2 separate regions of the Homo sapiens genome follow, and region 2 is linked to region 1. Evidence: fine-mapped expression QTL. A gene starts in region 1. The other region holds a variant in brackets. All regions are shown on one strand. Distances are between the middles of the regions. Region 1 holds the start of FOXL2NB (FOXL2 neighbor). Region 2 has its middle 26 kb from the start of BPESC1.

The links. PIP is the estimated chance that this variant, and not a neighbour inherited with it, causes the effect. A credible set is the group of variants that fine-mapping cannot tell apart.
Region 2: its variant is the best candidate, but not a certain one, in a credible set for the expression of FOXL2NB in pituitary (GTEx, PIP 0.63).

The regions. Positions count from the first base shown.
Region 1 is chr3:138,945,431-138,948,231 of GRCh38, reverse strand. FOXL2NB (FOXL2 neighbor) reads right to left here and starts at 1,015. Exons shown (of 3, transcript NM_001040061.3): 1 at 768-1,015. The coding sequence starts at 867. FOXL2 (forkhead box L2) reads left to right here and starts at 1,095. Exons shown (of 1, transcript NM_023067.4): 1 at 1,095-2,801. The coding sequence starts at 1,510. The coding sequence ends at 2,640. RefSeq lists a silencer at 851-1,079.
Region 2 is chr3:139,128,483-139,131,283 of GRCh38, reverse strand. No RefSeq gene overlaps it. Among named protein-coding and RNA genes, the nearest start is that of BPESC1, 26 kb to the right of the region's middle. The variant C/T (reference allele first, on the strand shown) is at 1,227.

The DNA of each region.
Region 1 (2,801 bases):
CAGTCTGTGGCAAAATACATACACTGGGAGGGAAAGAGGCATCGAAGAATTGTGAAAGAAAGGAAGAAAGGGGGGAAGGAAAGAAGTAAGAAAGGAGAAAAAGAGAAGATGCTATATCCACCAGCTACATTTACTCTAATACTTGATGAACATATTACATAACTATCAGTATAAGTGTGTTTTACCTCGTAAATACAAATCTCACACCTTGTACATGTGCATACCTGTGTTTCTGAGCAGCACACATGCACCTGGTATCTCACCCATCTCAAGGACAGCTCCTCTCCATGACTTCCATATGTGACCCCTGTGCACACACATACACAGTCCCGCAAAGTCCCGGGCAACAGCCCCGCCTGTGTTAGTGCAATAGCTGAGGGGCATCTACTTGGTGCTGTTAAAGCACACATCCAACCTTCACTCCAACCCCGTAGGATTAGTACACGGATTCCTGGTTCCTAGATCCACTGGTAACGCAGGGAGAGGCAGAGGTGATTCAGGCGGCGCCCCTGACGACTATTTCCAGAGATCCTCTCCCCTGCCCCATTCCAGCCCAGTCACTCTGAGAGCGCGAGGGACAGGCCAGGCCGAGGCTTCTTCGTACAGTCACACCCGTTTCTGGGCTGACTTTCCCAAAGCCTCAGAGCAGCTCTCCCCACCCTACCCCGTCCAGCCCCCTCGCCGTCTCGCCCCTCCCCAGCCCCGAGCTAGAAGTTCAGCCTCAAGACGGCAGCAAACGGCAGAGCAAAGGAGTCGTTTTCTTTCACCTGAAAGCCGCGAGGAGGCTTGGAGCGCCTTTCCTCGCTGGGGCCCGAGCTTCCTGGGCTTTGGCCGGGTGCGGGCAGACCCCACCGGGGTCCTCGTCATCTCCCAGCCCAGCCCGCAGAGCGAGTACCGGCAGATTTCAAGGGCGCGTGAGCCTGGCTGTCGGCTGGGCCCCTGAGGCTCGCTGGGCGGGGGCAGGCCGGTCCAGGCTGTGCGGGGCGTTTACAAAAAGTGACTTGGAGATGAACTCGCCCGTGCGCGGCTGGCCGCCCCGCTATAGGGGCGAAGGCGCCTGACGCAAGCGGAACTCGGTGGAGCCCATACGAATCAGAACAGAGCGAGGCTCCTGGCGCACTAGGGACTCCAGGAGGCAGCTCCGCCAGAGACGCGGGTCGTGCTTCGGGAAACCGGGGGGCGGGGGGAGGGGAAGAGCGCAGAAAAGAAAACCCACCAAGGCGGGGACTGGCCTGAGCGGGGAGGGGCGGCGAGGCCGGAGCCCCTCTCTGTTGGGCGGACTCCCCATGGCCAGAGGCTGAGCTCCACTCCCGCCGGCCGCTCCCTAGGGGAAGGGGAAGGAGAGGGGAGAGCAGCGACAGGCCTCCAGCAAGCAAGCGCGGGCGGCATCCGCAGTCTCCAGAAGTTTGAGACTTGGCCGTAAGCGGACTCGTGCGCCCCAACTCTTTGCCGCGCCAGCGCCTGGAGCGGAGAGCAGAGGCGGCCCGGCCGCGGCGCGCCGGCTTTGTCATGATGGCCAGCTACCCCGAGCCCGAGGACGCGGCGGGGGCCCTGCTGGCCCCAGAGACCGGTCGCACAGTCAAGGAGCCAGAAGGGCCGCCGCCGAGCCCAGGCAAGGGCGGTGGGGGTGGCGGCGGGACAGCCCCGGAGAAGCCGGACCCGGCGCAGAAGCCCCCGTACTCGTACGTGGCGCTCATCGCCATGGCGATCCGCGAGAGCGCGGAGAAGAGGCTCACGCTGTCCGGCATCTACCAGTACATCATCGCGAAGTTCCCGTTCTACGAGAAGAATAAGAAGGGCTGGCAAAATAGCATCCGCCACAACCTCAGCCTCAACGAGTGCTTCATCAAGGTGCCGCGCGAGGGCGGCGGCGAGCGCAAGGGCAACTACTGGACGCTGGACCCGGCCTGCGAAGACATGTTCGAGAAGGGCAACTACCGGCGCCGCCGCCGCATGAAGAGGCCCTTCCGGCCGCCGCCCGCGCACTTCCAGCCCGGCAAGGGGCTCTTCGGGGCCGGAGGCGCCGCAGGCGGGTGCGGCGTGGCGGGCGCCGGGGCCGACGGCTACGGCTACCTGGCGCCCCCCAAGTACCTGCAGTCTGGCTTCCTCAACAACTCGTGGCCGCTACCGCAGCCTCCCTCACCCATGCCCTATGCCTCCTGCCAGATGGCGGCAGCCGCAGCGGCTGCAGCAGCTGCGGCTGCAGCCGCGGGCCCCGGTAGCCCTGGCGCGGCCGCTGTGGTCAAGGGGCTGGCGGGCCCGGCCGCCTCGTACGGGCCGTACACACGCGTGCAGAGCATGGCGCTGCCCCCCGGCGTAGTGAACTCGTACAATGGCCTGGGAGGCCCGCCGGCCGCACCCCCGCCTCCGCCGCACCCCCACCCGCATCCGCACGCACACCATCTGCACGCGGCCGCCGCACCGCCGCCTGCCCCACCGCACCACGGGGCCGCCGCGCCGCCGCCGGGCCAGCTCAGCCCTGCCAGCCCAGCCACCGCCGCGCCCCCGGCGCCCGCGCCCACCAGTGCGCCGGGCCTGCAGTTCGCTTGTGCCCGGCAGCCCGAGCTCGCCATGATGCATTGCTCTTACTGGGACCACGACAGCAAGACCGGCGCGCTGCATTCGCGCCTCGATCTCTGAGAGCCCACCGCATGCCGGTGCAGACGGATGCGAGGATGCAGGGACGCGCGACGCCGGCCCCGGTCGCAGCCGACGACGCCGCCGCCAGCCTGACCTCACACCCTCTGGGCCCGCCTCTGGAGCCAGCGCCCAGGGTCCCTCTGTGCTTTTTCGCTTTCCTA
Region 2 (2,801 bases), 180 kb before region 1:
GCCCTGGAGGATGGTTTAGGAGCATCCCGATGATTGTGAGGGCAAGACCGCTCTTTTAGGATGACCAATCATCCCAGCCTGCCCAGGAATGATTGAGTTTTTCTGGGACTCTGGACTTTCACCCTACTCTTTTCCCACTCTTGTCCCCATTCTCAAAAGAAAGAAGGCAGTTGGTCTGTGATTATGGATGTGGTTGGCCTCAATGAGGGGACCACTGTCCTCAAACCCAGGCACTGCTCTCCCACCAACAACCTCCCTCTCCAGCAGCCTGACCAACTCTTGCTCTACCTTTCAGTTTCAACACATGTCATCACCCCAGAGGCTGTGTCATCTTCCCCAAAAAGAACCTTGTGCTTCTGTCTACTCCTATACCAAGCATGCACCCACCTCCACCTCCAAACCAGACCATGAGCTCCAATAGGCAGCGCCAAGGACATTGCTGGCCTGGCAGAGAGAAGAGGCTCCAAGACATTTGCTGAGTAGATGAATAAGTGGATGGGCAAATGGTGTTTAATTGCACCTTAATTGTTGTCTGTTCCTTACCTATTTATCCATGTAGTATTTTTTGATGCCCCTCCCCCTAGCCAGACTACCAGCTCAACTGAAAACTGAGGCTGGATCTTTCTTTGGGTCTTCCCCACAGTGCTGAGCACATGCACACAGCAGGGCACACTGTAGGTGCTCAGGAAAGGCTTTGAATGGATGCTTAAGGACACTTGCTGCCTGCAGTAAACTTTCTCAGGCTCCCTAGAGCATAGCAGATACGACTGCAGCTTTTTAAAATACTTCACACCCTGATCTGCATCAGTGGCTGCCTTTGAGCCCAGCACCCAGCGTGGCTGCTTCTCTGCAGGTCAAGGCTGTGCCTGATTGAAGAGGTAGGGGGTCAAGTACACTGGGCAGAGCTGGAGGAGTTCCTGTACTGTTTCCTCTGATCAGGAGTGGAACTTGTGTTGGGAGATGCCAGCACCTGCCATTTCAGCTGGCTGCACCTCTTAAATGATAGTGGTCTTGGCATACCTGTTCATCTGTTCGTCTATCTGTCTTGGGGCATCTCCAGCTTTTTCACCCACTCCCTTCCCCACACATCTCATTGGCCCTCTGTAGGCACCAGGTCCCATCCATATTCACAAAGATGAAGCCAGCAGAGCAGCTGTTCTGTTCCCTGGGGCCTGATGTTCTAAAGGGGAATAATGACTACTCATGAGTGTGCTTAACTGAGTTGA[C/T]AGATGCTCATAGCAGACTGGACTTACTGTTCCTTGCAGTCTTCACTGACTTCAGTGTATACGGAGAAGACCAAATTCCACCCCTAGGCAATACTCTGGTTTCAGACTGAAATTTGAAGACAGAGTTAAGAACCTAGTTCAAGGGGGGCCACTGGAAGCACCAAAAGTTGTAGCAACCGTTGAGTCTACCTGTTCAGATGGTTTGTTTTGCAGGAACCACACATACACACACACACACACACACACACACACACACACACACACACACACTGCCTTCAAACTCCTCTGACTTGTCTTCATCACCTAACCAGTTTTCAACATACCCCACCCGTGTCTACCTGCTCAGCTCAAGTCAGGGGTGTAGCTCAGCACATTCATGGGTGATCGTACCTCACCATCATTCCCAGTAGTAAGCCCCTGTCTCCTTAAATTGCTTACCTGCTTATCTGGATTAAATCGAGCACCTGAAATGGGCCAGACACCATGCCCATTTAATTTAGTGCTCAAAGTTTATATATTAAATAATTTAGTGTTCAAAAAGAGTACTCTGTGTATTAGCTCCATTTAACAGATAAGAAAATCGAGTCTCAGAGAGGTTAAGTGACTTACTTAAAGGTACACAGTGGTGAAACCAGAATTTAAAACTAGGTCCTCTGATTCCAACCACTGCTCTTTCCACTACACTGCCCTAATTACATTTAAACATCACACATAACTGACCACCACTGCCTCTTTGTGCACCAAGACCTCCTCCCACACACCTCTCACTTTGCTCTGTTACCCAAAGTCAGGTGGCAACTCTAACTCTGAGTCTTCTTCATGCCAGTCATTGAGTCCTTTCCAGACACCTCTCCAGTTCCTCTCCCATCCTTCTCATTCCATTCCTACTGCCTCTGCATGGGAGAGTCCTCACCAGCTCTCCTTGTGTAACCATCACAACCTGCCCTCCCCACCCTTCCAATGTCATCACCCCATTCATTCCCTCCCCACAAAACCTCAGACTTTCTGCCTCTCTGTACTAGTCCTGCCCCTCCTAAGTAAGCCTTGCTGTCTCACAACTCTGCAGATGACAACAATGCTGCCCACACACTCTGCCTGTGAATTCCTAGTCATCCTTCAAAATTCAGTTCAAATGTTACCTCTGCTGAGAAGCGCCCGCCCCAGCTCTCCCAGGCAGAGATGGGTGCCCATCCTTTGACCTTTTTCAGTATCCTTATACTTAGCCCTCCCTGTCTCATGTCCTTTGCCACACACTAATGCAATCATTTAGTGTATGTGTATGTGTCTTCCCTATTACTCTCTGACTATCTCTTATCTGTCTTTGGCATTTTGTTTTGTGTGTGTGCATGCAGGCATGCATGTTTGACCTTGGGTGCAGACAGTTGTGTTAAACGTGCTTCTTGGTTTCATGGAACTCCATCATCACTGGCCCATGAAGGCCTCTCTTTTATCCCTATTCCCACCCTCCTTCCCCTCCTCCTCCTATTTGTCTCTGTGTGCCCAGGGCCTAACACAGCACACAGAAGGGTGCTCAGCAAATGCTGCTGGGTGCAGGAGATGGATGACAAATTAGTC